Linked DNA regions of Homo sapiens: region 1 is linked to region 2. The links come from fine-mapping of genetic effects on gene expression. A gene starts in region 2. The other region holds a variant in brackets. All regions are shown on one strand. Distances are between the middles of the regions.

Region 1 (15,794 bases), 71 kb after region 2:
CATTTAGAGATGTCATGCTTTCATCCCTGTCCCCTTCATCCTATTTCTTGATTCTTTCCAGTATTTCTTAACAAAAGTATGTAAATCTTTGTGCATTATTTTTTTCTACTTTCTTACATTGAAGGTAGCTATGTAGCAGTGAATTTTTCTGAGAAGATTAAGACAAGTTTTATTTTTATTTTACAAGGAAGGCAGCTGAACAGATGGGAAGTTTACATATAGCATTTAAATTTAAATGTCAGTACTGTGTGCCTAGAACTTGATCAAGTGCAGGCCTCTGATAACCAAAAGTAACTGTTCTAGCATTGTACCTTTGGTTATCTCTGTAGCACTCATTGTATTAATATGTTGGATTTAGGCATCCACCAGTCTTTGGATGGTCAGGAGATGGAGCTTCCACCTCCCAACCTTAACTTTGCAAACATCACTTGTGGATAGTCTGTTTATTGAGACCAGCTGTGTCTTGCTTTTACTGACATGCAAGAGGAGCTGAAGACCAAGCAGCTTCCAGCTGCCTTTAGCAGCCAGATTAGCCTTAAACACACAAGTAGTAGGATGTCTCAGTCTCACCCAGTCTCTCTCTCTCTCTCTGGAGAAAGAACAGAAAATATCAACAAAACTAGCTAAGATCTGAAGACACTGTTGAACAGCTTGTCCAACAGTAGGAAAACAGTTTTCTGGTTGGCAGAAAACAGAGAAGAGAAATAAAGCAGCACAAAGCAAAAGTTGGAAGTGTGTAAGGGCAGGAGGCCAGTCCTAATGAGGGCTGGTACCAAGGGACAGGCAGATTGGCTTGGTAGGCTGAGACTTAAAATGCCACTACTTGGCCAGGCGTGGTGGCTCACGCCTGTAATCCCAGCACTTTGGGGGGCCAAGGCGGGTGGATCACGAGGTCAGGAGTTCAAGACCAGCCTGGCCAGGATGGTGAAACCCCATCTCTACTAAAAATAAAAAAATTAGCTGGCACGGTGGCAGGCACCTGTAATCCCAGCTACTCGGGAGGTTGAGGCAGGAGGATCACTTGAACCCAGGCGGCAGAGGTTGCAGTGAGTCGAGATCATGCCACTGCACTCCAGCCTGGGCAATAGAGTGAGACTCTGTCTCAAAAAAAAAAAAAAAAGCCACTACTTGCTAAGCATTGTAATTATGAGGGTGGGGGGGAAACTGAGGGAAGGGGAAAGAGAATGAACTTTGGGCAGTTTGTTTGAACTTTGAAAACTGGGCAACGGGGAGAACCTGCTGTGAAACAGACAGCTTTCTATTGTGTCTAGAGTAGCGCAGACTTTCTAAGAAATGGATGTGGATAGAGTATGTATTGGTGGCATGCGCCTGTAGTCCCAGCCACTTGGAGGCTGAGGCAGGAGGATCATTTGAGTCCAGGAGCTTGAAGCTATAATGCGCCACCATGTCTGTGAATAGCCACTGCACTCCAGTCTGGGCAACATAGCAGGACCTTTTCTCTTAAAAACAAAAAAGAGTTCCGGTGAAATGGATAAAGCAGACTGGGAAGGACGAAGCCTGTGGGGCTGGTGGGGCTGAGTCCCAACCAGCTTCATCAGTGGTGATCCTTTTGAACTTGTACCAAAGTTTCCAGAACAGAGGTGGCATGGATTTACCCTTGTGTGATGCTCGATCTCAGAGATGGGACTCTGTGATTGGCCTTTGTTGAACTGACAGGTATTTGAATGTGCACATCCTACGTAGGACATCGCATTGAGTGTAGGCATAGTGCCAGGGCAGCTTGCCTCATCGTTACCAAACGCGTTTCCTGGGATCTGTCATTCTGTCCATTGTGCTTTCTCCTGTTACTCTAGCAGTTCAGTGAATGTAAGATTACTACTCTGTATATGGAACTTTGAAAACAAGAATGAGGCCACATTACGCCTGTAATCTCAGCACTTTGGGAGGCTGAGGTGGGAGGACTGCTTGAGGCTAATTGTTTAAGGACCAGCCTGGGCAACACCCCATCTGTACAAAAAAAATTTTTTTTTTATTTACCTGGACTTGGTGACACCTGTAGTTCTAGCTACTCAGGAGGCTGAGGTGGGAGGATCACTTGAGCCCAGCGAGTGATTGCACCACTGCCCTCCAGCCTGGGCAACAGAGGGAGACCCTGTCTCTTAAAAAAAAAAAGAGAGAATGAGAGATGGCAGTTCCTGTGCTGCTCATATTGTCCTTCTTTAGACTTAGAGATTGTTTCACATTGTCTGTACTGTGTTGTGCAGTACCAGAAGTTGCTGGTAGCTACTTGGTCTTCTGGGACCTGCCATTGCAGACGTGGTGATTGTAATCTTAATCTTGTTGAAACAGGATGGATTTATGACTGGGATGGCCGGAAGCCACACCAGACACCCAGTCACCTGGTCATGGGAGAGGTACTTTGTTGGCTTTTCATAGTACTTACACTGTGAGCTGCTTCCTGAAGTGGCACTCTTAAGGCCAGGTGCCCCCACCCATCTTCAGTCCTCAGCTCTTCCCCTGTGCACTGTTTCCTCTTGCTATTTAACAGTTTGTATCCTAGAAGATCGCTAGGCTTTTTGCAGATACCAGCAGAAGTCTTTGAAGAAGAAAAAACATGTTTGTTACGGATACTGACCTGTGAGCCACTGAGAGGGTAACTGGGGCCCAGAGAAGGGCCAGGCTGAATTCTGCCTTTAGGACAGCAGCCCAGGAAGCATTTCCTACCATGTGCAGCCATCTGCACCGCATCTCCTGAACTTGCTTGGTCCATGATTTGGGAGCCCCGTGGTGATCTTAAACGCCCATGCGCAGCCGTGGCATTTGCGGAGTGCTCTCTCACACGTTGAGTATGGTTCTCTGCCTTGCCTTTACAAACAAGGGCCTGAAGGGGAGAGAGCTTGCAGCTGCCTAAGGTGACAGTGCTGCAGCCTAGACCAGAATTGTTCTTTGGGGCAGTAGGCTTCCCCAAATGGTTTTTCCTTGGCAATAGGACTGTCCCTTAGATGTCTCTTCCCATTTGTAGATCACTGCCCCATCTCCTCCATATCCCCTCACCTAAAATAGAATGGGTGAAACTATGATGCTATGCAGGATACTGTCATTTACATTAACATTAAACCGTACCTGTACTTGATGCAAAGGACATGTGCTCCACAATCCAGGAATAGCCACTTTCAGGGATTTTCCAAATCTAATTAGATTGAAATGCAAAATATCCCTCTGTTCTAGCTATTGTTAACCCTGGCTGCATGTGGGAAACACTCAAGGAGCTTTAAGATACAAAACACTGCCAGGCTCCCTTACCCAGTCAGTCAAATCCGATTCTGGAGTTGGGACCTAGGTGTGTGATGAGAACTGCTGAGTCCTGTCGAAGGTTAAGCTGGGCAGCACTGCTTGGCAGCCACTGGAGGTGCTGTTCCCACCCATGTGCAGCTGGGCAGGGTCCCTACCCCAGGGCAGCAGTTAATGGCCTAGACACCCCTGCATATTTGAGATCAAGAAATGTCAGTAGTGGTTAATAATGTGAATTCCACAGTCTGTATCTTTCACACTTCCATTCTCTGCTTTTAAGGTGAGATTCTAAGTACTGTGGACCCATAATCTGTCAGGTAGAGTCTGAAATGTTTTTCCTCTCATTTTAGGGATGGGCGTGTTTTGGGCGTGCTAGAGGTGTCACGCTCCATTGGGGACGGGCAGTACAAGCGCTGCGGTGTCACCTCTGTGCCCGACATCAGACGCTGCCAGCTGACCCCCAATGACAGGTAAAAGGCCCTATAAGAGGCACAGGTGTGTGTGCATGTGGGTTTATTTCTCTTCCTCACTTCCAGTTTCTATCAAGCCTTTGTTGGAGGGAAGGTGTGCATGGTGCTAGGCCCTGGGGGTGCAGAGATAAACAAAATGTGGTTTCTGCTCTGGTGGGGTCCACAGTGGTAGGGGGGGACACATGGGGATGGGCAGCTGCAGTCCAGTGTGTCCTAGGCATGTGCTGTGTGCTGGGGTCTTTGGCAGTAGGGGAAGGGGTTATCCCTGTCAGAGAGAGGAGAAGGGGCTTCCTGGCAGAGGGAACACACAGTAAGGCATTAAAATGTGACAGTGTGAAAGCATGGCCAGACAGGCGCTTGAGGGACGGAGGGAGTGGTGGGAAAGTGATAGCAGGGTACTTTGGGGGCAGATCCTGAAGGGCCGGCCCTCAGCCCCATGCTGGAGAGTTTGAACTTTAGTTGATCATTGGTGGAGAATCATAGGTTTTTACACAGAGCCAGGATCGGTTGAGAAAGAGACAGTTCACCTGTTCATCTCCTGTTCTCCATGCCTAAGGGTACGGCACCGTGCTGGCTGAGGGCAGGGCCTCAACAGGTGATGGTTAAAGATGGCATTATGGGGCTAGGGAGGCCTGTGAGCAGCGGTGCAGCAGCCCTGGCCTGATGATGAAGGGCTGAACTAAGGCAGTAGCAGGAGGGGTCAAGGAAAGCTCCCGGAAGCAGGATTCACAGCACTGAGTTGATGAGGGGAGGCCAGAGACACTAGTGGCACTGTGGCGAGTGGGCCTCCGAGTGCTGCTCTGAGTCCCGCCCCAGTGCTGCGGATGAAGAGCGCGTGCCTTGCTTTGGCACTCGCCTGCTTGGCCTTGTCTTGAGCCACTGCCCCATTCTCCACATCTTCTTCAGTGTGTTTGTCATGTTCTCACGTACCGCGGGGTCCTCCATCATCTCTCCAGCAGCCGCCGCCTCTGGTGTTCTGAAGGATGCACCTTCTGCTTTGCTTCCTAGCTCGCCTTCCTGGGTTGTAGTCATGGGTCTGTGTGATTGGTTATTGAGGGTCTGAGTCTCAGGACACTGGAAGGGGTGGGAGCCTGCCAGGACTAGGCCCCACGGTGTTCTCAGCATGGACGATAGGCTCGGCAAGTAGCGGCCGAGTGAAAGCCTAGTTAAACGAGGAAAACAGGCTGGGTGTGGTGGCTCACGCCTGTAATCCCAACACTTTGGGAGGCGGAGGCAGGTGGATCACCTGTGGTCAGGAGTTTGAGGCCAGCCTGGCCAACATGGCAAAACCTCATCTCTACCAAAAATACAAAAATTAGCCAGGCGTGGTGGTGGGCGCCTGTAATCCCAGCTACTCAGGAGGCTGAGGCAGGAGAATCACTTGAACCTGGGAGGCGGAGGTTACAGTGAGCGAGATCATGCCATTGCTCTCCAGCCTGGGCAACAAGAGGGAAAGTCCGCCTCAACAACAACAGCAGCAGCAGCAACAAAAAACAAAGAAAAAAAAACACAAAAAAACCCCACAGATATTACAGTGAGAAAAGGAGGGTGGCTTATACCGCAAAGCTGTGGGGATGCGTATTCCCCACCCCCAATGCCAGGAAAACTAGAACTGTCACATTGAATCCATTGGTGTTCAGAAAGATTCCAGGGACGGTCTAGGGGGGTTTGATTCTGAAAGGGAGAGCATGTGGTTTTCAAACACAGGAACACGCACAGCTGCCCCTTCTTGGGCCTCGGTCTTGGATGCAGCCCCAAGCTGTGCAGTGTGTGCCCAAGGATGTTTCACCGAGGCTGGGCTCATTCTCAGCTTTATGTCTGGAAGTGGTGTAAGGCCTATGGTGTTATAAATTCTTGTATATTTACCATAACACCCATGTTTTTATTCAGTGATTTTTCTGGAGTTTGCCTAAGAAAGTACAGCACCTAATGTTTGAGGTAATTAATAATTCTGTTAATTGGCGAAGAGAAGGATAGTCTCAGTTTTGATGTATAACATCCTATCCACAAATACTTGTAAGTAGTTTAAACCTTTGTCTCAGAAATTAAGTGGGTTTAAACAAATCTTAGCCTGGCCAGGCGCTGTGGCTCATGCCTGTAATCCCAGCACTTTGGGAGGCTGAGGCAGGTGAATCACCTGAGGTTAGGAGTTTGAGACCAGCCTGGCCAACGTGGTGAAACCCTGTCTCTACTAAAAATACAAAAAATTACCCGGGCGTGGTGCCGGGCACCTGTAATCCCAGCTACTCAGGAGGCTGAGGCAGGAGAACAGCTTAAACTGGGAAGGTGGAGGTTGCAGTGAGCCAAGATTGCGTCATTGCACTCCAGCCTGGGCAACAAGAGTGAAACTCCATCTCAAAAAAAAAAAAAAAAGAAAAAAGAAAAAAAAAACCTTAGCCTTTGAATAGTTGGACAAATATTTATTTTATCTCCATCTCCAGGCCCTTTTTTTATTTTTTATTTTTTGGTTGGGCCTAAAACCCGTTTATATTTCTCCCTGGTGTTGTAGGTTCATTTTGTTGGCCTGTGATGGGCTCTTCAAGGTCTTTACCCCAGAAGAAGCCGTGAACTTCATCTTGTCCTGTCTCGAGGTGAGAAATCTCACACGGGGGTGGTGGTTGTCCCAATTGTGTCTTAGTTTTCAGAGAAGTAGAAGTTCTGAGACCCCATTTCCTCCCATTGTGGGACAGCCCTTGTGCCCTTTTTCAGTGTGAACTCTGCCTACTGACTCACTGGTCAGTTTGTCCTGCCAGCCCTGATGGAGACCAGAGCAGCTCTTCTTCCTGGCAGTCATGTCTCAGGAAAGTGACAGGGTGCGGGGTCACTCCATTCACTCATTCCCTTTCTCATCTGGTAGGATGAAAAGATCCAGACCCGGGAAGGGAAGTCCGCAGCCGACGCCCGCTACGAAGCAGCCTGCAACAGGCTGGCCAACAAGGCGGTGCAGCGGGGCTCGGCCGACAACGTCACTGTGATGGTGGTGCGGATAGGGCACTGAGGGGTGGCGCGCGGCCAGGAGCACGCATGGTATTGACTTAAAAGGTTCATTTTGTGTGTGTGCACATTGTGTGTTTTGTGTACTCCTGTGGGACTCCCATGGTTGTAAATAAAGGTTTCTCTTTTTTTTTCCTAGTCTTTTGAGTTATTATACTGTGAGCACCTCTTGACCCTTCAGAGATTGTGTTTGCTTTTGAATATGCTGTCTTTCCTTGTTAAAACCATTATAGGCATCTTGGACTGGCTCGTAGTGGCCTGCAGGCTGCTGGTTGTGTGATGTTTTGTAGTTCACGGGCATTTTGCTGTGCTTTCACTGTCATGATGACCCTGGTTGGGGAAGTGGCATGTTGCAATGAAGAGACCCAGGGGATGACTGGTTAGTCAAGGCTAGGCCCAGACCAGGGCTTTGGGAACCCTCTAGCTCTTTTCAGTTTTCCCTATGGAAATAGTGTTGCAAAATGTTACATAGCATGAGCTCAGGCTTAGCCAGGAAATAGACTCATAGACAAGGTTACTCATGCATCAGACCTGCCAGAAACAGTACAGAATTAGCCATTCTCATTCCATTGGTGAGAGCTGCAGTCTGGTGGAAGGAGTCTGTGGAGGACTCGGTTCAGTGGCTTCCATCTGGACTCCCTGGGTGTAGGTGTGCACCTTCCTGTTGGAGCAGGCAGCCGGCTGCTCAGCATGGCCCGGAAATTCTGCTTCCCACGTGAGGTAGGTGTGGGGAGTTGGCCCTGTGCTGGAATGAGGTTAATCTTTGCAATAACACCTCAAAGGGGGACACTTCTGTTAAAGATGTTAAAAGCATGAAAAGAGTGCATGAAGAATAATAAGCTCAGAAGAATAAGCTTTAAAATACTTTTCAAGCACTTGTTTATATAGAAAACGTCATCATTATGACTGTAAGTAGTTTTTAGTAAAGCAGCTCTTGGATCCTTTTGTGTAAATGTTTGGCTCAGGATGATGTAAGATTCTAAAAATTTGCGTTTTCAGAATCTGTTTTGTAATGTTCCCTGGCCCCCACCCAACACACACAC[A/G]TGGTTTTATCACCCAGTTGATTGAGTGGAATTGGTATCCATGCTGCGAGGACCTCAGTGGTAAAGGCTTCATGTAAACCTTAGATGCCTCCTGGGGGTCTGTTGTGTAAAAGCCACAAGTAAGAACTGAACGAAGTGTTGGTGCTGCCCCTTCCTTCCCCAGGGAGTTTTAAGAGCCAAGTACCCATTTCAGTTTGAGGACTGGGACATTGTACAGTGTGGCCTCATTGAAGAAAAGAGCCCTGGCACCCCAGAATCAGGAAATAGAACCATTCATTTGGTAACTATCTTCCTATAGCAAACCAGGTGTTTGCACACTGATGTCTGTGACTCATACATCCCTATGTCCCACTGTTCCCGAGAGGCTTGACCCTAGTTTCCCAGGAAGGTTCACTCCCAGCCTTCAAGGGAGTCCCTCCCACGTAGAGGCTGGAGGCCATCTCCACTTCACCTTCCAGGTTCCTCCTTACTGTGCTTAGTTTAGTGAACCTGGGCTAAAGGATTGATTCCGGATCTTAAGGTCTGCCTTTTGTTTTGTAACTGTTGTGTCACATAGTTCTTAAGTAAGTACTTGAACCACCCCACGAAGTCAGTTATATAAATATATTCCACTTGGCAGTATTTATTAGACAATAAATACTTTAATAAATTGCTGCATAACACACTGAGAAAAATGAAAGAGATGTGGATATGTGGCTTTTACAAGAGTGAAAGATAAGTTCTCTAGAATATCTGTGCCCAGTGGATACAAAGTGAAATCTAGATAAGGGCGTGGCCACATCACCCCCTTATCAAAACACACGGATGCAGTACCCAGGCCAGCCCAGTACTTCTAGGTAGGGTGGGTGTGAGTCCTACTGAGAATCGCACCAGGCCTTTCCCAGGGCAGAGTGTTTGGTTTTTGTGTGTTACTGCACTTGGGGATGGAGATGTTTGATTCGATGTTGGGGTTTGGAAGCTGGGCTCCTGGGGATCATTCGGGCCTGGTGGCAGCCACCTCATCCGGAGGCTAGTTAGTTAGAAGGTGAAGGTGACTGGCCATTGCTCCCTTCTCTCCCAGGCCTGAGCGCCCTTGCCAGACCAGCTTGGCTCCCAGGAGGTCCTGAGGCACCAGGTTCTTCGTAGCCTGTTGTGTGGGGAGGCAGTGGGTTAACTCTTCCTCAGCAGGTAGGAGGCCCTGGAGGTCGCTGCCGAGGGCCTTGTCCTCTTCACTACCTACTCTGGGACAGTCCTGTACTTTGGGGAAAATGTGGGAGGCTACATTTGAGGAGGCTGCGGGCTCACAGCCTGTGTGTCCTCATGAGAGCTGCCGTCCCCATCCCCAGGCCCCATCACTGCCACAGGAGCACAGCAGGCTTGGGACCAGCCCTCCCAAGACCACCCTTTCTCGGGACCATCTCTCGTCCACCACCTGTCCAATGTCAGCGCCGCATGGCCACCCAAGTGGGAAAGATGCTTGGGAGGCTCATCCCAGAGCCGCTGGACCCAGCCAGGCCCTGGCACCCCTGGTGGAAGACTCTGCTTCAGCTATTCGGATGATGGGTCAGCAGGCCCGGCTGTCTCCAATCTGTAAAGACGTTCTAGATCTTTCCTCTGGTGGGTGGCTCCTACCAGTGAGTCAGCACCTCAGAGGGGAGGGGAAAAGGGATCTCATCCACCTCTGGAGAGGGTGGAAGGGGCCTTGGCTGTGAAGATTTGCAGAGGAGGGGAAGAGTGGAGCTCCCATTTGGAAAGGCCTTCTGAGGTGAATTTGTGAGTTAATCTTGCACACATTAGAACTAGAAGCTGGGCCCAGACTTACTGTCCCCCAAAGGCCCTTGTCCAGTGCCCCTCTGGCCCAGGCTAGGCAGTGCTCAGCTCCACTGGCAGGTAGAACACGGTTAGGGGAGGGGCAGGGAAGACCAAGGAGCCCAGATGGAGACCAGGGGAGTGGTGAGTGACCCCGTCCCTTCTAAGCAGTAAGAACACACAGCGTACGTCCCTGTGGCAGCCCCCTCAGCCCTGCGTCAGCTGACCCTCTCCCAGGTAGGGGCCCTGGCTGGTGCACTTTGCACTCCATGAGAACATGAAGAGAGGTGGAAAAGGTGGGGCTGGGCACAGGAAAGACGCAGAGGCCATCTGGGCAGGTGCTGAGCAGGCCAGGAAAGAGTCGGCCTGCAGCTGGAGACTAGCAGGTGCCCCCAGGCACGCCGACTCTTTCTTTCCTGGATAAGAGCCCAAGATGGTGTCCTGAATCAACCCTGGCTCCGGGACCACCAGCGTGCGTGTCACGTCCGTAGGCCTGCCTGCAGTGGCTCTGTGGGCTGAACTGCAGTGGCCAGTGTGGGCAGAGTTCCGGGTGGGCCTCCTCCTCCATGTGGCCACTGCTACTCTGACACTGTCCACACATTGTCTAGATCTGTGCTCCATTTGCCCCTGAGAGGAAGGGCCTGTGGTGGCCGCTCACACGCCCAGGAGGACAGCACTGAAGTGGGAGCCACTGCGCACTGTGAGGGAGCAGCCGCTGGCGTTGTCCAAGAACACGGAGGTCCACTGCCCCATCTGCAAGGAGGGTGCCTTTGAGGCACTGGGCCACCCCAACAGCCTGCAGAGGTGACCCAAGGGCCAGCCAGCCACACTCCCTCCTGCCCACTCAGCCCCGCTTTTGGGAAGGGCTCAGGCCCAGAGAAGAATGTGGCCGCCAAGGTCACAGAGCAAGGGCCCGCACGGGTTGGGCCCCACCCAGCACCTCTTCTGCTTTCCCTGCAGCGCCCTACAGTTCGCGTGTGTGGGAGTGGGCCCCTGCTCAAGGCCAGAGTGGGATTCAAGAGTCCAACAGGTTTCTCAGCTGCAGGGCTTCTCAGAGCCTGCAAGGGCTCCAAGTCAGGTGGGAGGGTGGCCCTTCCCCACAGGCAGTCATTTGGCAGAGCCTTCCGTGAAACCAGCACTCTAGCCTGGCTGCTCCAAACGTGGTCATGCACCAGCAGCGTGGTCATGCACCAGCAGTGTCACATTCCCTGGGAACTCCCAGAAATGCAGAATCTGGGATCCACCCAGACCTGCCTCAGGATCTGCATCTTAAGATCCAGGTGGGGCAGAGACCATCTGAGTTCACCAAGCATGCTGTGTGGCACCCAGAAGGGACCTCTAAATGCCTTTCAGCAAGCACAGACTCTGGGCCAGACAGCCTGGCCTCCATTTCTGGCTCTGCTGTGTGAACTTGGGCTAACTCGGGGAGTAGCTCTACCTTCTCCAAAGCTCTGGGAGAATTCAATAGCAGCTGTTATTCCACACACCTGCACTCAATTGTTTTCTTTGTTAGTAAATTCCACCTTTATGTCCATTTCTCTACCACTTGCCAAAATTCCCACAGTGCCAGAGATGGTCACTTAGGGTTTTGGGTAGGAAAATAACGTATCTGGCTTCCCATAGTCACAGGGGACTCAGGGCGTCAGCCTGGGCAGAGTGCTGGCCTCCATTCCCTCCCTGCACCAGTCCCTTCAGCGGGCTTGTGGTGGCCAGGAGTACTGGGCCTCAGGATGAGGTGCTCAGGGAGTCTGAATATTGGGAATGCAGAGCGGAGCAGCTGCTCAAGCGGGCAGGTGCCCTCGGGGAAGGGCTGTGTTTGGAGGAAGGAGATCAGGACTTGAAGCCTGGCTGCGCCCAGACCAAAGTGAGAACTTGGCATGTCCTGGACCCTCTCCCAGGCCTGGAGTCTGAGGGTGCTGCACCCGACCCAGTGATCCTGAGCATCTAACAGCACCCTTCTGCACCCAGCCACCCGTGGCCATGCCCAGGCGGTGCCCCTCGATGCCCAAGCCTGCCGCACTCACCTGCAGGTACAGGACGCCATTCACAGAGATGGTGAAGAGCTCACTGCTGCTCTCCAGGCCCATGATGGCCTCCAGGGAGCTGTACCCAAAACAGAGGGAGGGTCAGCCTGCCCCATGAGACCCCACCAACTTCACCTACGACACACAATCCTGCCAGCAGCCAACACATGCCCAGCAAAGTGCCTGACCCTGGCCAGGTCTTCCAGTGGAGGTGGTGTCTGAACCGAGTCCCCAAGAGGAGGAAGGACACAGGGCCAGAGGCATGCTTGCTGTATTGGGAAAGGCAAGGCGAGGGCCCAGCAAGAGGCAGCAAAGCCCTGGCTCTGATGGGAAACAGGACACTGGCTGATGCAGCCGGAAGTGGGGATGTGGTGGCAGGTGATGCTAAGTTAGTTCAGGCCAACACACTCTGGGGGTTCAAAGGCAGACTAAGAAGTTTTGGACTTGATCCATTCATTCAAGTCTGCTCCAGCTATCCTACCCGCAGGGTATCTCCGCTGTACCTGGGCTCCCTTCTGGGTGTGGGGAGACAGGGAGCTCACAGTCACTGCACTCGTGGGCCAGATGGTGCAGGAGCAAGGGATGCGATCATGGGGAAGAAAGTTCCCGGGTGAGGAGTGGGAGGGCGACTGAGGAGGGGGCCTCCAGAAAGCTGTCTGGAGAGGCCTCTTGAAGTAACACTGGTGCTTCGAGCCCCAAGATGAAAGTCCCTGAGGTGGGAAGGAGTTGGGAGGCTAGGAGGAGCCCGGCCTCCTAGGACCTGGGGAGGAGGTGAAGGTCTGGGCAGGGAGTGGCCTGGAAAGGTTTTTTTTTGTTGTTGTTGTTTGTTTTTTTGAGACGGAGTCTCGCTCTGTTGCCCAGGCTGGAGTGCAGTGGCGCTATCTCTGCTCACTGCAAGCTCCGCCTCCCGGGTTCACGCCATTCTCCTGCCTCAGCCTCCCAAGTAGCTGGGATTACAGGCACCCACCACGCCCGGGTAATTTTTTGTATTTTTAGTAGAGACGGGGTTTCACCATGTTAGCCAGGATGGTCTCGATCTCCTGACCTCGTGATCCGCCCGCCTCGGCCTCCCAAAGTGCTGCGATTACAGGCGTGAGCCACCGCGCCCAGCTGGAAAGGTCATTTTTAACAGCTCCCAGTTGCTGTGAAGGGAAGGCCTGATAGGGGCAGAAGTAGACCGGGAGACCTGGAAGAAGGTGTGGGGTCACCTAGGCCACGGTGGGGTGTGAACGGGCGGAAGCCCCGTCCAGTGCCTGTTTAACCACCTCCAGCTTGTGGAGGCCGAGCGAATGCGGGTGTGGGGTCCGGGCCGGGGTACACTCACGCGTTGCGCTGGCACCGGGACTGGATGCAGATGAGCAGGCGCAGGTGGTCCCGGGGGCGCGGCGGCCCCCTCCTCGGCGGCTCCCCGAGCGCTGCGGGGGAGGGTGGGACGTGGTCAAGCGGGCGGGCGGCGGGGTGGGCGACAGAGCGGGCGATCCTCCCACGCCCCGGGCCTCACCCACGTGCAGCGTGGCGGCGAGAGCGTAGAAGCCAGCCACGGGCGCCCTGTACTGGCCGCTGGTCAAGTTCAGGCCCGGGCCGCGGCGGAAGGCACCCTCGGCGTCGGGCTGCGAGGGGCACGGATGGTCACCCCGGCTCCCGCCCGGCCGGACTCACCCGCCCTCCCGCGCGCCGGCACTCACCAGGTAGTAGACGCCAAGCTCGTGCAGCGCGCGCCGCTCCACCAACGCGTCCCGGCGCAGGCGGCAGAGGAAAGCGGCCTCCACGCGCGGCGCCCGCGGCCCCGGGGCCAGGGGCGCGGCCAGCAGTGCCAGCACGTCCCCCACCACGTCGTCGTCGTCCTCCCCGGCGGTGGCCGAGACCGGGGCGAGGCTCGCAGCGACCGGCCCGGCGGGGCCACACGTACAGGGTTCGGGCTCCGCGCGCTCCCGCTGCCGCACCGCACCTGGCACAGAGCGAGCGGTGGCCGCGCGCCAGGGACCCCTCACCCGCCCGCCGCGTGGGTCCAGCCCTGAACGACAGGTGCTAGCGAGACCAGGGGCCTGCCGGGCGCAGGGGTGGGGCGAGGGCGACGTCCCCTCGGCCTGAAGGGCCTCGGAGTCTTTGCGTCCTGACCCTGCAGCGGCTCCCGTTTCCCTCAAGATTTGGGAAGCTCGGGCAGAAGTGCCCCAGCGCCCTTGGCCTCCAGCCTCACCTCTACCCCACCCACATTTTCCAAAGACGCTGGGGGTAAAATAAGCGATTGCAGCTTTACTGGAAGTACAAGGAGGTTCTTCAGCGCAGAAGGTGCTATATTTAAACGAACAGGACATTGAACTAAAAGGAAAAAACGGCTCAATTCTAATGACTAATGTGAGCCGCCGCTCTGCAGGAGGCCTCAGTGTGGACTCCGCGGCTCCACTCAGCCCTGCCTCCTCCAGGGCAGGCTGCCCCAGCCCTGGCCAGTGGTGACTGTGGGTGCCAGGCTGAGCTCCACCTGGTGCTGCCCCATACACTAGCCTCTGCCTTTCGCTGGGCTCTCCTGACTTCCAGGCAGGGCATAGGCGCTGGTCCCTGAGCACCCGCCATACTGAGTGGCCAGGTCCACCTTCCTCTGTGAAGCCTTCTCCTGGCCATGGTTCCCAACCCCCAGCCATCCCCAGCCCTGACCCTTGGCAGACATGGGCCAAGATGGGGCAGAGACTGGACCTGGCCAGCTCTACTGTCCTTGAGTCCAGCCCAGAGCAGGTGCCTCCTTGGGTGCCCGCCGAAGTGTTGAGGTTGGCCCTGTCAGCTCCTCGGGACACCCTCCCAGGCCCTGCTCACAGCGGGGTGTGTGTGTCCCAGCCGGTGCACACCCCTACCTTTCAGCAGCAGCTGGAACTCCTTCAGCAGCGCCTCGGGTGGGATGATGGGGCCTGGGGGGCCCTGGGGACCGGGAGGCCCAGGGGGCCCTGGCAAGCCGAACTGAAAGGGAACCTTGGCAGTGAGGACATGTGAGGAGCAGGCTGGGAGCCACAGCATCCCCTGTGCAAGCTCTTGCCACTAAGAGGCAGGCAACAGAGCTCCCCAGTGGGCTCCAACCTCCAGCCAAGGATCTACCTCAGTGAAAGCTTCTCCTGGAGTGAGTACAAGGACTGTGCTGGAGGTGGGGGCCCTCGGGGCGGGGCTTTGGCAGGGAAGGACTCTGCTCTGAGTGGGGAGGCAGAGGGCTGAAGCCCGCTCCTGCGGCCAGGCCTCGTGGAGGGAAGAAGACTCTAGGCTGCTTTTGGGGACTTGCATCTCAGGGTCTGCACTGGGCCCGAGTCCACCATCAGCAGGTCCCCACTAGGCTGGGTTGGGACCCGAACCAGAAGCCAGTGAGCCCCCTGTGGGGAGAAGCTTAGGGCAGGGCCAGGAGGCTGGGCAGAGGTAGAAGGCCAGGCCACGAGGACAGCGCGGCCTGTGCACCTGCCTCATGCACTCCGAGCTGGCCTTCCATCGTGTGTTCAGATCCCAGGCAGGTGATACTGGCCCCCAGGGGACAGAGAAGCCCACACCCCGTATTTTCCATTTTGGGGGCTCCAAGCAGGAGGCAGCACCAGGACCAAGCACCAAGTTTCTGCCCAGGCCAAGACCTAAGGCTGAGTGAGGGTGAGAGGGACCCTGTGCCCCTAGTCCCTGGGAGCCAGGCACTCCTGCAGGCCCCTCCAGTGTGGACAAGGTTCTCACCACAGCCTGGGCTAGCCCAGCCTCCCTGGCCTGGATGCAGAGGGAGGAGAAAAGAGGGAGAGCCTGGCATTTTAGGGGTGTGGGGAAATGGTTGGGACCAGGCCCCTAACTCGGGGCTCCCCCTGGGGCTGCCTGGGTTCTCTCTGTTCTCTGTCCCCAGGCCGAGGCGTGAGGGGTGTGCTATTGGAAATGTTCAGGATGTAGGAGTGGGAGTGGATGAGGAGCGAGGAGGCGGAACCCCCCACGGCCTGGCACTGACGGGATGCCGGCCTCACCTTCAGCTTCTTGGCCTTGCCCCTGCTCCTCTTCTTGCCATTGACACCCTTGTCACTCTGCCTGACGAAGAGCATCCAGGCGTCCCGGGGGTCGACGCTGTGTGCACGCTCAGCGGTGGGCTCCTGGAACACAGCCAGCCCAGCAGGGCGGTTGGCCTCACTGGGCTCCTACCAAGCAGGTGGGACACTTTGCAGGAGGTGACTGTGTGGCCTTCTGTACTCTGGGACCCTGGTCCTTGTCACCTGTGGTGCCCT
Region 2 (14,322 bases):
GTGTGGACACGTTTCAAAATCATTGCGTCACCTTTTCTTTGGCCTGCTGTGAATGTCCAGTTGAAAATCACAGATGTCCTCTATATACCCTATGCCTCTGGAGCCCTTCTTAGTTATTGTCTCTCTCTGCTACTAGAGTGCCAGCTCCTGGGACAGGGATTTTGGCCTTTGCTGCCAGCCACCTCCTGGCTGACACCTGGTCACCTGCACCTTACTCAGTTTGAATGACTTTTTATCTTTTGAGACAGAGTCTCACTCTGTCGCCCAGGCTGGAGCACAGTAGCGTGATCTCCGCTCACTGCAAGCTCTGCCTCCAGGGTTCAAGCGATTCTTCTGCCTCAGCCTCCCAAGTAGCTGGGACTACAGGTGCCTGCCACCACGCCCAGCTAATTTTTTGTATTATTAGTAGAGATGGGATTTCACCGTGTTAGCCAGGAAGGTCTCGATCTCCTGACGTCGTGATCTGCCCGCCTCGGCCTCCCAAAGTGCTGGGATTACAGGCGTGAGCCACCGCGCCCGGCCAATTTGAATGACTTTTGTAACAACTCAGATCTCAAGTTTGTTACTGATTTCTCTTTTTTTTTCTTTTAAGGAATGTGTTTACTGTGAAAACAAGGAAAAAGGTAATATTTGCATACCATATGAGGAAGATATTCCTTCTCTGGGACTCAGCGAAGTGTCGGACACCAAAGAAGACGAAAATGGATCCCCCTTGAATCACAGGATCGAAGAGCAGACGTAACCCCTGCCCCACCTCAGCCCGGCAGCCAGCGAGGTACACCAGGTGGTGCTTGGAAGAGATGAAAGATCTTCATGGCTGTTTCCACTGAAATGGACACATATGCTCATGTTGCTTTTTTTGTTTTAGAAAAAAAAACAACATAGTTTTCTGAAGGGGCGACTTAAAACTGTGGAGAGTGGGGAGAGTTCGGAAAGAAATATGTTTTTATATATAAAATATATATGTGGAGTTTTGTGGGATGGGGAAGAGATTTTAGTTGTTATTTAACTTGAGAAAGACTAAGCGCCTCTTAGTGTCAGGGAAGTTGCCTCAGTGCTCCCAGAAGTCCTGTGACTGTGACGAGACCTCTGTCTGCTGCACCAGCTGGGGACTCTGGCTTCCAGAGCTTTCCCAGGGTGTTTGGATCAGATCAAATTTTGTCCTCTCTTGGGGACTGCTTTTTATCTGAATTATCATTTAGTCAAGGTAGAGTGTTTTTTTATACATACCAAATGGAGATAGCAGCCTCTCCTAGTTTTATTTCAAAACGTTTCACATTAAATGGTGTGAAGCGTTGTTTGGCAAACCAACAGCTTTGGCTTCTGGTGTGGTCAATATTTCAGTCTGACATAGGTTTTGTTTGTAGTGAACAAAGTTGAAACATTTGCTCTGGACTAAAGAAGCCTAGTGGTTTGTGTGGCCAACTCCATCGGATGAATGCACACGCAGACAGACCCTCTGTATATTTCTGCATTATTCTTGTCTCCTTTTCAGACCATGATGGCCAATATGGAGATTAAAATATGTCATCAGTCATCTCTTTATGGTGACTTCCCTTTGCAAACCAGGCTGTGACCAACACATGTGAGACCCAGTCCTGTTTGGTTTTCTTCCGTTGGAACCACCCAGACATCTGCTTCCACCCAGCCAAGCCCACATCACATCTCCTGGCCGAGAGCAGCCACTGCCACTCAGTCTGACAGCTTGCGACTGCATCTGTATTTTCAGGGGTGCAGTGAGCTCACCTCTCCCACTGCACCCTGGGTTGGGTGCACAGCCCTCATTCTTTTCATGAGCCCGACCTCTCTCGGAGCAGCTTCAGGCCTCTGCCAGTGTCCCCAGCACTTTTAGGTCATTTGGACACTTGGGGAAAAGTGAGGCCAGTCTGCCCGGCTTTTTACAAAACCTCATGTTGCATTGTATATTCCAAAGATGGTTCAGAAAATTTAATATTGGTCCCTGGTGGAAATTCAAAGTTATCACTGAAGAACAGTTGACTTAAAATTGGACCAAGACTATGAGGCTTAAAAGGGACCAGGGTTTTCTTTTTTTTTTTTTTTTTTTTTTTTTTTTAGATGGAGTTTCTTTTTGCCCAGGCTGGAGTGCAGTGGCGCCATCTTGGCTCACTGCAACCTCTGCCTCCCAGGTTCAAGCGATTCTCCTGCCTCAGCCTCCTGAGTAGCTGGGACCACAGGCGACTGCCACCACACCCAGCTAATTTTTTGTATTTTTAGTAGAGACAGGGTTTCACCATGTTGGCCAGGCTGGTCTCGAACTCCTGACCTCAAGCGATCCACCCACCTCGGCCTCCCAAAGTGCTGGGATTACAGGCGTGAGCCACCACGCCCAACTGGGACCAGGGTTTTCTGTTTTTTGATGGAGGTGAAATCTCTTTGTAATCCACTAGGTTTTCATCGTAAAACCATCTTATGCCTGACTATTAAACCTATTCTTCATAAACACAAGAACACTTTAATTTTTCGTTAATTTACAAAGTAACATCAGCTGCCTATGCCTATGATAAGGTAGCAGTCTGCATTCTTATGGCCATTAGATGTTACAAACTCCTTGCCTCTAAAGTCAGATCATGAAGGGATAGGTGTTCATCTAAGGTTACAGTTATGTTACCGAAACACAAAACTGCCAAAATCTTACTCTGCTGTTATGAATGTTTACCATCAGCATTATTTTATCATTTAATATGTGCTCACTGATTGTTAACTGTAGCTTCAGCGCGTGCCAAGCAGTTGACTTAATAGGATCATCTTGTGAATTTGTTTACGTGATGCCAAGCATCAAGTCATGTTTTCTTTAGTGTGTGTGCTTACACAGGTGTTAAACAGTTTTTCTCTATTTTAAACTGAGCCTTCTTTTTAATATATTCCCGAAGAGATATGTAAATAAGCTCTCAGAGTTTCTGTGATGATTTGTTGAGCCTTGCTGGACAAGTGGTTTGTTTGTGTGCAAACCAAACTTTCTTTACCCAGTGCAATAGATTTGTTTGACTGCTTGTGTCTTTTTATGACCTGTTTGCCTTTTAGAAAATTGGTAAATAAAGCAAGTATATTTTTATTTTTACTTGTATGTATTTTTCACATAGCACAAAGGAAAACCTGAATAGAGAGCAAAGATTATTTAAAAAAAATTTTTTTAAAGAACTCCAGGAATTCTGCATTAAAGAATCTTACATCCCAAAGGCCTCCTGGCGGTCAGCTCCCTTATAGCGTTTGCTTCTTGCTGGCTCCCTTTCTTCCTGTGCGTGTCACACACACACCCTCCTTCAGGCTGCAGGAGTGAACTCACGTAATGCAAACCTAATCGTGTCATGCCCCACAGTCTTTTCACTTTTAGTTGGAGGGGTGCAGCTGTCTGGCTCAGCCCCAGAGTGCCCCCAGCTCTGCCTCCACGCACCTCTGTCTTCCCTGCATCCCTGCCCTGGGTTACCTGGCCTTTCCAGGCTGGCTGCCTGTCTTCTGGTCATCGGGCTAGGTAGGGCTAAAGGTGGGGCGGTCAGGAGGCTCCACCAGGAAGGTCACATGTCTCCATTGCGAATGATATGGGCAGGGCGGCATAGTCCCCTGACCCCAGCCCTTCTTTCACAGTGATGAATGAAGCCTTGTGAGGCCAAAACTGTGGAAGCCCGAAGAGTTGCTCCCCATCCCTCCCACTCTTCAAACCATGACCCTGGGGGTGGGAGCAGAGAGCTGAATGGATCCTGAACCCAATGCCCAGCCTCTGAGAAGCTCCCTGAGCAGAAGGGAGGGGCTCTCCTCTGCCTGCTAGCCTGGCTGCCTAACGCCAAGTGCTGATGGGATAAAAGGCAAAGTCCTCCCTAGCGAGCACAGAGGCCTCTGCAAACTGCTCTAAATGGCCAGATATGGTTGTTTCACTGAACCTGAGTGCTTTTGGAAGACTCTTAATTGTATTTTTATTTACCATATAACCCCAAGGGATTTATTTCCAAACCAAACGGAGATTCTCTGAGTCTCCTGGGCAGATTGCCCACAAGGGGCCTGGACAGTCTACAGGCCGCAGCTGCCTTTGTTCCCCCAGGGATTTATGGCCTGCCACCCCCACTGCTAACTGGTATCCCCGCAGCAACCACCACCCTGCCCAGCCTCTGCTGGCCTCTGTTCCTGGCTCTAGGGGGATCAAAGGACTCAAATGCTCAGGAAGTCCATACTCAGGCAAACTTTGAAGGCAGGACTGGCCCAAGGGACAAATGGCAGGAAGTGTTGGCTAGGGGAGGCTGCTGTGAAGGAGGGAGGGAGGGCTTGGTGACCTCAAGATAGGCCAGGCTTCTGGGACAAAAAGGCCATGCCAGCTGGCCAGTGCACCGCTAAAGGGAATTGAAGCTGACCTTGCAGAGGGGACCTTGGGCAACTTCCAGTCCAACCAAGAAGGATTTTGCTGATGTACAGCCTTCTCTACTTAAGCTCTTTTCCCTGTAGGATCCTTGGTCACACCGAGGCATATCCCAGTGCTTAATTTCTCCCTCCCTCAACTCTAGACAGCATTCCTCAACCCTCCACCCACTCCACTGTCAGACAAGGCTTTTGAGGTCCCTAGTCCTCCCTTTAGCCTCCTCTCTCATAACTCCTATCACCTGTCCTTTTGTTTTTACAAGGTCAACTTTATATCATGTCCCATAACCATAAACAATCCTTCCTTGCCTTCTGTATAGATTAATTCTAAATGTTAAAACCCTATGAACACTGTTACATTGTTGTGACTGTGAAAATTGTCTCCTGAGCCAAGTAATGTGCTAAGATTACATTTCTTGGGAAGCTTTTTGTTTTTCCTAGAGTTCCTAGTTGCTTTTCTTTCTTTTTTTTTGCTTGCACCATTTGCCTTTATCATGTCCTCCTTGCCCCTCAAATCCAGTTCCCCATCCAATCAAGTGTTCAGTCAGGCTTTACCCAAAGTCCTCTTTTGGGGCCCTGATCATCCTGTTGCAATATAAATTGCCTAACATAAAGCAGATGTTTTAGGATGAGAGCATCCTAAAACATCTACTTGGCCTTGTTCGTTTGGATAATGAGAGGAGTGTAAATCAGTTTGCAAACTTGGGAGTACAGGAAATATCAGTGAGTTTATTTTTCCCTATCACAGTTTCTCGAAGTAGTGGAAATGTCATTGTAGCCACTTGGGGGAGTGGAGGTTCTCCTTCCCTGGGGTGATGTCTAAGTGGTGAAGGAGAGTAAAGTCACAGGCTAATAATCCACTTCCTTGGGATCCACCACTCCAGCCCCACCCTGCCAGCCCCACTACTGGGCAGGTGGGGAGTGTGTGAAGTAAAGCGGTAGTTTCACACCCAGGTGAGTGATGCTGGGCTGGGGGAAGTCTCAGGACCCTGCTCATAGAGCAACCAAGAGCCAGAGCAGGGACAGTTGGGAGCCAGCGGGAGGGGGTCCCAGGTAATTACAGAGGTCAGTGAGGTGACTTTGGGAGCTTTCAAACCTCTCACCAAACTCACCCAGCAGGAAGCCTGCAGGGGTCCCTCTGGTGGAGAGGCGCAAGTAAAGGGGCCATGGGAGGCCTGTCAGACCTCTCTAGGGGCAGTGGGGCGGTCGGTCTGCAGCCTAGTCCTGCCGCTCCGCTCAGCTGCTGCGGTCCCGTGATGTTCCCCTCCCACGCGGCCTTCCAGCCCATCCTGCCAGGGCCACCCCTCACCTTCCCTACCTACCAGCGCTTCTGTGAGGCCAGGCTCTGCTGGGGGTGCGGGGAGGTGGACAGGGGGTCCTAGGTCAGACTGTGCCCTTGTCCAGGGACGCTTATAGCCTGGAGGGGCTCAGAACAGACCCTGACGATCCCAGCCCGGGTGAGTAGTGGGGACTGAGGAAGGCAGGTGCTGTGCGGGGCAGGCTGGTAGTCGGCCGGCTGGGGTCCGAGAAGGCGTCTCCCGTTCCGGCTCCTCCACACAGCGTCTGGACTGACGCCGGGGCAGGAGCCGGGCAGGGGTCCCCAGGACGCTGCCCGAGGGCGCGGCCCCACCGCCCACGCACCCCGCCCGCGGCCAAGAGGAACCCAGCAGATGGGCGGCCCGCCGCGATGGGGGAGTCGCGGGCGTCTGGCCGGGACAAGCGCCCGCCGCCTGCCCGCCGGACAAAGGGTGCGAGACAAAGGCGCGGCCAACACCTGTCGCTCTTGGCGCGGCCGCCGCTTTTCTCGCTTTTCTCCGCCGAAGCGGCCGCAGCTGCCAACTGTCACGGGCATCAAGTTACAGGACCAGACGGCAGCTTCGGCGGGCCTGGGAGGCGGGGCGCGGAGGACGAGGAGGGGAGGAGGGAGGCGGGCGGGGGGCAGTGGAAGGGAGGGAGGGGGCCCCGGGGGCCAAAGGGGACTAGAGGGAGATGGGGGAGCTCAGAGGGGGGCGGGGCTGGTGACCCGCAGAGCCCAGGGGGAGAGCGGCGCGGGCGGGAGCACCCGGGACCCCGCCCCACTAGGACTCCAGTGCTGGCGGAGGGCGGCGTCGGGGGTCCGGCCCGGCGTCTGGACGAGTCCGGAAGAAACTCAGGGGCCGCCCCGCCACCGCTGCCCAATGGACCCTGCCTCCCCGGGGCTTGGCAGCCACCCCAGCCGGGACCTGAAACCCCTCTAGGTCCAGAGACCGCGGACTTGACTGTGGCTCTGCACACCAGGGACGCATCTCCTGGGGCCAGTGGCCCCAGCGCTCAACTCTGGAGGCGCCATCGGCGAAGGAGGGAAATGAATGAATTAATGGGTGAATGAATGAGTGGACGGACGGACGGACGGACGGGTGGACGCCTGCTCGCACGCGCGGCAGATCAGTGGTCCTAGAGCAGCAGACGGAGAGAAACAAGCGCGGGCAGGGCCGCAGCTACCCGGGGTCGCCGCCCCGGTGCCGCCCCCGCGGGGGTCTAGGGAAGGCCGGGCTGGGGGCCCCGCCTAGCTCAGCCAGCTGCCCGACCGCCAGAGCCGCTGGGCCGGACAAAGCGCGCTGCCCCGATTGGCTGCAGCGCGCCTCGCGGTCGGCCGCCCCGGGCCCGCGCGGCCAATCGGCGCATTGAGATGCAAATAAGCGGCTATAAAAGGGGCGGGACCGCGGCGGGCCGGAAGCCGCGAGGAGCGCGGACGGCTGGGCTGCTGCTGGGCGGCCGCGGGGCAGCGGAGGGCGCCGGCACTCCGGTCCCCGCCGCTCCCCGTCCCCGCTGCTCCTAGCCCCTGCCGCGTCCCCGGCGGAGCGGGCATGGCGCCACCCGCGGCGCCTGGCCGGGACCGTGTGGGCCGTGAGGATGAGGACGGCTGGGAGACGCGAGGGGACCGCAAGGTGCGGGCCGGGGCCATGGGCGAGCAAGCGGGCGGGAGGCCGTGCGGGGCTGGGATTCAGTGCCCCGCTCCCCGCAGGCCCGGAAGCCCCTGGTGGAGAAGAAGCGGCGCGCGCGGATCAACGAGAGCCTGCAGGAGCTGCGGCTGCTGCTGGCGGGCGCCGAGGTGCGGCGGCCGGGCAGGCGCCGTGGGGCTGCGGGGCGGGCGGGCGGGTCCGGGAGCGCGCTGCCGGCTCACCGCCCTTCCCGCCCGCGCAGGTGCAGGCCAAGCTGGAGAACGCCGAAGTGCTGGAGCTGACGGTGCGGCGGGTCCAGGGTGTGCTGCGGGGCCGGGCGCGCGGTGAGTGGCGGCGGGGCGGGCGGGGGCGCCGGCCGCGGGCGCCTGTAACCCCTGCCAGACGGAGGACTTCCCTCCCGGCGCCCCTGTCCTGTCGGCGGCGAGGGCTCCCACCGGAGCAGGGTGCGCCCCCGCGTCTCCTGGGTGAGCCGCGTCCCCGCGGGCCGGGTGGGCTGGGCCACGCAGTCGCCGCTCACCGCGCGGGACGCGGCTCTCTCCCTCCCACCCTCGGGCCCAGAGCGCGAGCAGCTGCAGGCGGAAGCGAGCGAGCGCTTCGCTGCCGGCTACATCCAGTGCATGCACGAGGTGCACACGTTCGTGTCCACGTGCCAGGCCATCGACGCTACCGTCGCTGCCGAGCTCCTGAACCATCTGCTCGAGTCCATGCCGCTGCGTGAGGGCAGCAGCTTCCAGGATCTGCTGGGGGACGCCCTGGCGGGGCCACCTAGAGCCCCTGGACGGAGTGGCTGGCCTGCGGGGGGCGCTCCGGGATCCCCAATACCCAGCCCCCCGGGTCCTGGGGACGACCTGTGCTCCGACCTGGAGGAGGCCCCTGAGGCTGAACTGAGTCAGGCTCCTGCTGAGGGGCCCGACTTGGTGCCCGCAGCCCTGGGCAGCCTGACCACAGCCCAAATTGCCCGGAGTGTCTGGAGGCCTTGGTGACCAATGCCAGCCAGAGTCCTGCGGGGGTGGGCCCGGCCCTCCCTGGATCTCCTCCCTCCTCCCAGGGGTTCAGATGTGGTGGGGTAGGGCCCTGGAAGTCTCCCAGGTCTTCCCTCCCTCCTCTGATGGATGGCTTGCAGGGCAGCCCCTGGTAACCAGCCCAGTCAGGCCCCAGCCCCGTTTCTTAAGAAACTTTTAGGGACCCTGCAGCTCTGGAGTGGGTGGAGGGAGGGAGCTACGGGCAGGAGGAAGAATTTTGTAGAGCTGCCAGCGCTCTCCCAGGTTCACCCACCCAGGCTTCACCAGCCCTGTGCGGGCTCTGGGGGCAGAGGTGGCAGAAATGGTGCTGGGCACTAGTGTTCCAGGCAGCCCTGGGCTAAACAAAAGCTTGAACTTGCCACTTCAGCGGGGAGATGAGAGGCAGGTGCACTGAGCTGCACTGCCCAGAGCTGTGATGCTCTGTACATCTTGTTTGTAGCACACTTGAGTTTGTGTATTCCATTGACATCAAATGTGACAATTTTACTAAATAAAGAATTTTGGAGTTAGTTACCCTTGAAGTATTGTTGAGTGATGTGTCATTACTGTGTCAAGATATGTAAATGCTAAACTAAGCACATTTCCCCTGCATCTGAGGCTGGTGAATGTCCTTTAAAACCTCACCCTTTCTCAGCAGAGTGAGCAGTGTGATGGTGGTGGGGATGCACTCCGTGGCTGTCTCTGCAGCAGGCAGTGCTTCTGCCCCCCATGCTAGGCAGGTCCTCAGACCCAGCCTGTTCTTGGGCATTGTGTGTCCTGGAGAAGGAGTTTGTTTGCATGAGGCTTGTCTCCAGGGTAACTCAGCAATAGGGAGATGACCTGTCTCTGTGCCATTTTCTTGTTCATGAGCTTCAGGAATAATAAAATAATGCCTAATTGCTACCTATTTGGTTTGAAAGTATCTTTTAAAGACCTGTTTTAGGACCCACGAGCATGACATAGACATGAGTCTACTTGTGTGAGGTTGTTGCTTATCTTGACTGAAGAAGGAACTTCCCCACTGCTGCCATTGACTTCAGGGTCAAGGAGACCCACCCAGTTTGTGGCCTGAAATGAAAGCGCCAAGGCCCCAGGGGGCTTGAGCGTTAGGTCAAACTGGGTCCAGGAGGTCAGAACCCTCAGGGATGGAGGGTGGCAGGATGGGCAGCTGGGGTGCGGGAGCCTGCCCTCTTGGGCTCGGCCAGACCTGCAGATAGCACGTGGTCAGCCGGCTGAAGTCACCGCCACAGTTAGCCTAGCCCCCTCCTCCTGCTCCAGGACCCCAAAGCAGCAGCTTCTCACTGTGGGTTGGCAGTCCCCAGGCTAGGGCCAAGGTGTGACAACTTAGGATTGACGTCGGGGTCTCCTCTCTGGACATGTGCTTTTGCCTTAAGAACACCTTTCCCAGCAGCCCCTTTACAAAAGCCCCCAAGCAGGTCCTGGCCACCAGGGGTGTTTCAAAGTTTGAGGTTCACTCTGGCTCACCTCAATTCAATCATAGAAGCCATTGGGCTATAACCAGATGCAGCTTTATCATCTGGAGCCGAGCTATTGGGGCAGTGGGGGAGCCAGTGCCACAGAAGAAGTCTTGAGCAATGGAAATATCATTCCTGGGATTATTTTAATGTCCTCAGACAGGCTGATGTAGGATGTACCCACCAGGACACGGATGGATAACGGGCCATCCTGAAAGCCCTGGTTTCCAGTAGCACCCAGAGGCCATGCCAATGAGCTCTCATGCCATTCAGGGAGCATCAGCCATGGACTGCTTCAAAGGAACAACTTTCACCTCTCAAGTCCACTCATCACACCTTCCCAGATGCCCTAGGAGGGGGTCAAGGGGAAGCCCAGGAGGCAAGGTGCAGGAGGCTGACCTGGAGTAAAAGCGTTGCTAGGACCAGAGTCAGAAGCCACTAACCCAGAACTCTGGCCCTGTGCCCCTCCAGCCCTAAAGTCAGCTTCACAGTAATCCTCAAGTGCAGCTTCTTTTGGAAATGTAACTGGCTCCCACACCAGTGACCACTGTTGGCCTCCTGGGGCTGAGAGCTGCTCTTGCCTGCGGTGCAGCCTGGGGCCACCAGCTTCCCAGCCAGCTGGTTGTTTCACACCAGCTCCTCTCCCAGCACCCCCAGGCTCCCCACAAGCCCTTCTCTGAGGGCTGTCTCCTTCCCACCCGGATCCCTTCTCTAAGGGCTGTCTCCTTCCCACCCGGATCCCTTCTCTGAGGGCTGTCTCCTTCCCACCCGGATCCCTGACCCACTGTATTACTTTTCTATGGCTGCCAAAACCAACGACCACACTCTTGGTGGCTTCAAACACACGATTATTGTCTTGCAGTTCCACGGGTTAGAAGTCTGTCAGGATTCACTGGGCTAAGATCAAGGTGTTGGCAGGCAGGGCTGTGTGCCTTCTCCTGCCTCTTCATTCAGGGGCCACCCACATTCCTTGGAGGATGGTCCCTTCCTCCATCCTCAGAGTTCCTCGGAAGCATTGCGTCTCTCTGACCCTTCTTCCTTGGTCACGTCTCCTCCTTACTTCTACTTTTAAAGATCCTTGTGATGACACCAGCCCCCTGGAGAATCCAGGATAATCTCCCTGTATGAAGGTCTTTAGCTTAATTCTTAATCACATTTGCAAACTCCCTTTTGCCATGTAAAGTAGCATATTCGCAGGTTCTGGGAACTAGGATGTGGTCATGAAGGACATTCTCTGTGACACCTGCCTGCACCCTGGCCCAGGCGTTCTGCCTTCCATCATGAAGCAGTGTGGCGCCCGCTTCCGACATGGGCATGGGCCCCCATCCCTGCTCACCTGCTCAGGGACTCTGCTCTCCACTGCACCATTAGCTTCTCCTCCCTTCTGGATCATTCTCATTAACCTACAAACGGGCTGTAATATGAATACCTTTACTCGGAAGAACCTCCCTGGATGTGACATACTGTTAGCCTCTGTCTCAATGCTCTAAAGCAAAATTCCTTGAAAGCGTCATCTACACTTACTGCCTCCACTTCCACGCATCCCATTCCTCTTCATTCCTTTCCAATCAAGCTATTGTCCACCCTTCCACTGGAACTGCACAGTCAAAATCTCTAGTAACGAGCATGTTTCCCAACCCAGTGGGCATGTCCGCATGTCAGCTTCACTTCTCGTGGGTTATGACTCATCCATCTGGAGGCTCCTTCTCCAGTCTCAAGGGCACCACACCAGCCTTCTTTCTACCTCATCGGCCATCCTCAGTCCCCTGTACTCAATGCTCCTCCCTGCCGACCTCCAACTGGACGTGTTCTTCCCAAGGCTCTGTCCTCAGCCTTCCCTGCCGCCCTCCAACTGGACGTGTTCTTCCCAAGGCTCTGTCCTCAGCCTTCCCTGCCGCCCCCACACCCAGTGACACCATCTGGCCCGTTTTGCCAATCCCATGCCCTTGATTCAAAGCCCCTCTCCAGGCGGCTGGCTCCTCTGTATCCTCCTGTCCACTCAGTGACTGCACTTAGATGTCAGATGGGCTCACACCACCACCAAAACAACAGATCCTCAGGCATTACCACTTCTTGGTACCCCATGGATTGAGCAAAAAAATCTAGATGTCACCCTCAAGTTCACCCTCTTCCTGCCATCCCACGTCCTATCAGTCAAGCCCATGAGCACTACTTCTTCTTCTTTTTTATTTTTATTTATTAATTTATTATTATTATTATTATTTTGAGACGGAGTCTCACTCTGTCGCCCAGGCTGGAGTGCAGTGGGGGAGATCTAGGCTCACTGCAACCTCCGCCTCCTGGGTTCAAGCAATTCTCCTGCCTCAGCCTCCCAAGTAGCTGGGACTACAGGCGCCAGCCACCACGCTCGGCTAATTTTTTCTATTTTTAGTAGAGACGGGGTTTCACCGTGTTAGCCAGGATGGTCTCGATCGCCTGACCTCGTGATCTGCCCGCCTAGGCCTCCCAAAGTGCTGGGATTACAGGCGTGAGCCACCAAGCCCGGCGGAGCTCTACTTCTAAGCCCTGCCTCCACGTGTCGTCTTCTTTGCCACCGACCGAGTCCAAGGCAGCCTCGTTTCTAACCTGGGCCTCCGCAGCAGGCCTCTGACTCCCCTCCCACTCCAGTCCTGACCGTGACCTTCAAGACTCTACCCGGTTCAGCACCGCCGCCCCCCGGGGCTCCTCCCTTCCAGCCCTCCCTACGCTCTGCTCAGGCCTCTGCAAGTGACCCGAGAGCCAGGACCCGGACGGTCTCGATCAGCCAGTCGCCCAGCCCTTGAGCCCTTCCGGGACTGCCCGGAGCCGGCGCTGGGGAATACCGAGTCCCTTGGAGCCGGGTTCGGGGGGCGCCGTGAGCTGGGAGGCGCTCGGAGGAGCCGAGGCCTTGACCACGCCCCCTCCAGCCCCGCCCCGCCAGAGGCGAGCCGCGGGGCCTCCTGGGAGATGTAGTTCCGACCCCTTTACTTAGATTTTTGGTTTTTTTTTTTTAAATCAGTTTTATTTAAGAATTTCCAACAATGACAACTCTTATAAAAAGCATCCAAGCACAGGACACAGAACTGCAGCAAACAGCATTCTTATGGGTAGCTAACAGACATTAGAACTTCTACCCTTCTTTGAGACACCAGAGTTCACTGCTGAACTCTGCTTCCAAGTCCTCCTGCAAAGCACACCACAAGCTCAGTCCATGTTCTCAGCCCATCAGCTTCAGTTCACATTGCCACACTTACATATCAGTAACAGAAGAGAACACACACCATACAGCATTCACAGCAGTTGACAAAGGGGTAGGGGGAGTACAAGTATCATTTCACTTAACACATTCAAATAAAGTGGGTTATCTAAGAACAAAAACTCAAAGTCTTCCAACAGATGTGGATGTCCTTTGAATGCAAAAAACATTCGTACATTATTTGCTATCATTGCTGTCTGCACACTGTCACCAAAGCCGCAGGATTGAGAAACACATCTCGCCAAGTTAAAAAATATCCGTTATGCACCACCAAGTCTCTGCACGTGCTCTCTCCTTTTCTCACTCATACTAGCCTTTCATGCCTCAGCACCACCGTCAATCCCACACAAGGTTTCAAAAGTTCAAACAGCCTTCTAGTTCCATATCACAGCCTTGCGTTCACAGCGTTGATACGACTCTATGAAATAAAGAGTAGCAGATAAAAATGGGACACCCACCGTCAAAGACGCGGCCTGTGATGCGTGATGACGAATTCTTGAATGAGAAGGCATGTAGACAGAAGTGTTCCTATGGCAGAATATTTACAGCACTACTTTCAACCAAGTGCTTCTTCCATAAACATTTGAAATGAGATGAACTGCAGAGATTAAATGAAGGCTTCATATTGTACTTTTGTGTTTGAGGGGAGACAAGTGTTAAAAAACAAAACAAAAGAACCAAACTGTGACACCATGATCTTCTAAAAGGAGATTTTCTTAAGGAAAAAAATCCATATGGTGGGGTTCAAATTAAAACAAGGAATAAAGAATGTAGTTCTAATTCATGGCTTCCATTTTGAACATGCAAAGAACTCACTTGACAAGTCCAGGGATAAAATATTACAGGAGAAACCTTCTGATATCAATTGTAGTGTGTTGGTTTACCAATCAGGCAAACAGCAGTTCACTTTCAACCACTCAATATTTCAACCTTTCATGTAACAAAACTTATAAAATTCCTTTAGCTGTTCCTTTTTCTAAAGAAAAATGTCAAAAATACTACTGAATATACTCCACACTGAAGAAACCAATTTTGAAAATTCTTAGTACATATGTATTTTACAATATACTTACCATGAGTTTAGAAAAATTTGAATTCCAACCATTCTATACCAACCAACCACAACCCCACTGTCTACGTTCCCAGCCAGAAGACTTAGAATCCATGCTTGAGCCAAAGCCGCCATTAAAACCACTGCCCGACCCTGCATTGGATGCTGATCCCCAACCAATTGTTGCACCAAAATTAGAACCACTACAAGAGTTATTTCCAGAACCGAAGGCCTGGTTTGGCTCCCTCTGCAT

The links. PIP is the estimated chance that this variant, and not a neighbour inherited with it, causes the effect.
Region 1: its variant is fine-mapped to the expression of HES6 in whole blood (TOPMed, PIP above 0.99).

Annotation. Positions count from the first base shown.
Region 1 is chr2:238,161,462-238,177,255 of GRCh38, reverse strand. It overlaps ERFE (erythroferrone), which reads right to left. Exons shown (of 8, transcript NM_001291832.2): 2 at 15,540-15,662; 3 at 14,418-14,520; 4 at 13,257-13,519; 5 at 13,073-13,181; 6 at 12,896-12,986; 7 at 11,572-11,650; 8 at 8,366-10,300. The coding sequence ends at 10,202. It overlaps ILKAP (ILK associated serine/threonine phosphatase), which reads left to right. Exons shown (of 12, transcript NM_030768.3): 10 at 3,603-3,722; 11 at 6,232-6,313; 12 at 6,580-6,854. The coding sequence ends at 6,720. Among named protein-coding and RNA genes, the nearest start is that of ERFE, 10 kb to the right of the region's middle. RefSeq lists an enhancer at 13,598-14,098. The variant A/G (reference allele first, on the strand shown) is at 7,760.
Region 2 is chr2:238,232,795-238,247,116 of GRCh38, reverse strand. HES6 (hes family bHLH transcription factor 6) reads left to right here and starts at 7,079. Exons shown (of 4, transcript NM_018645.6): 1 at 7,079-7,292; 2 at 7,370-7,456; 3 at 7,549-7,630; 4 at 7,866-8,850. The coding sequence starts at 7,212. The coding sequence ends at 8,290. PER2 (period circadian regulator 2) reads left to right here. Exons shown (of 23, transcript NM_022817.3): 23 at 593-3,073. The coding sequence ends at 742. It also overlaps the pseudogene TARDBPP3. RefSeq lists enhancers at 1-969, 5,168-5,673, 5,674-6,179, 8,080-8,648, 12,374-12,875 and silencers at 6,837-7,356, 12,304-12,393, 12,544-12,673.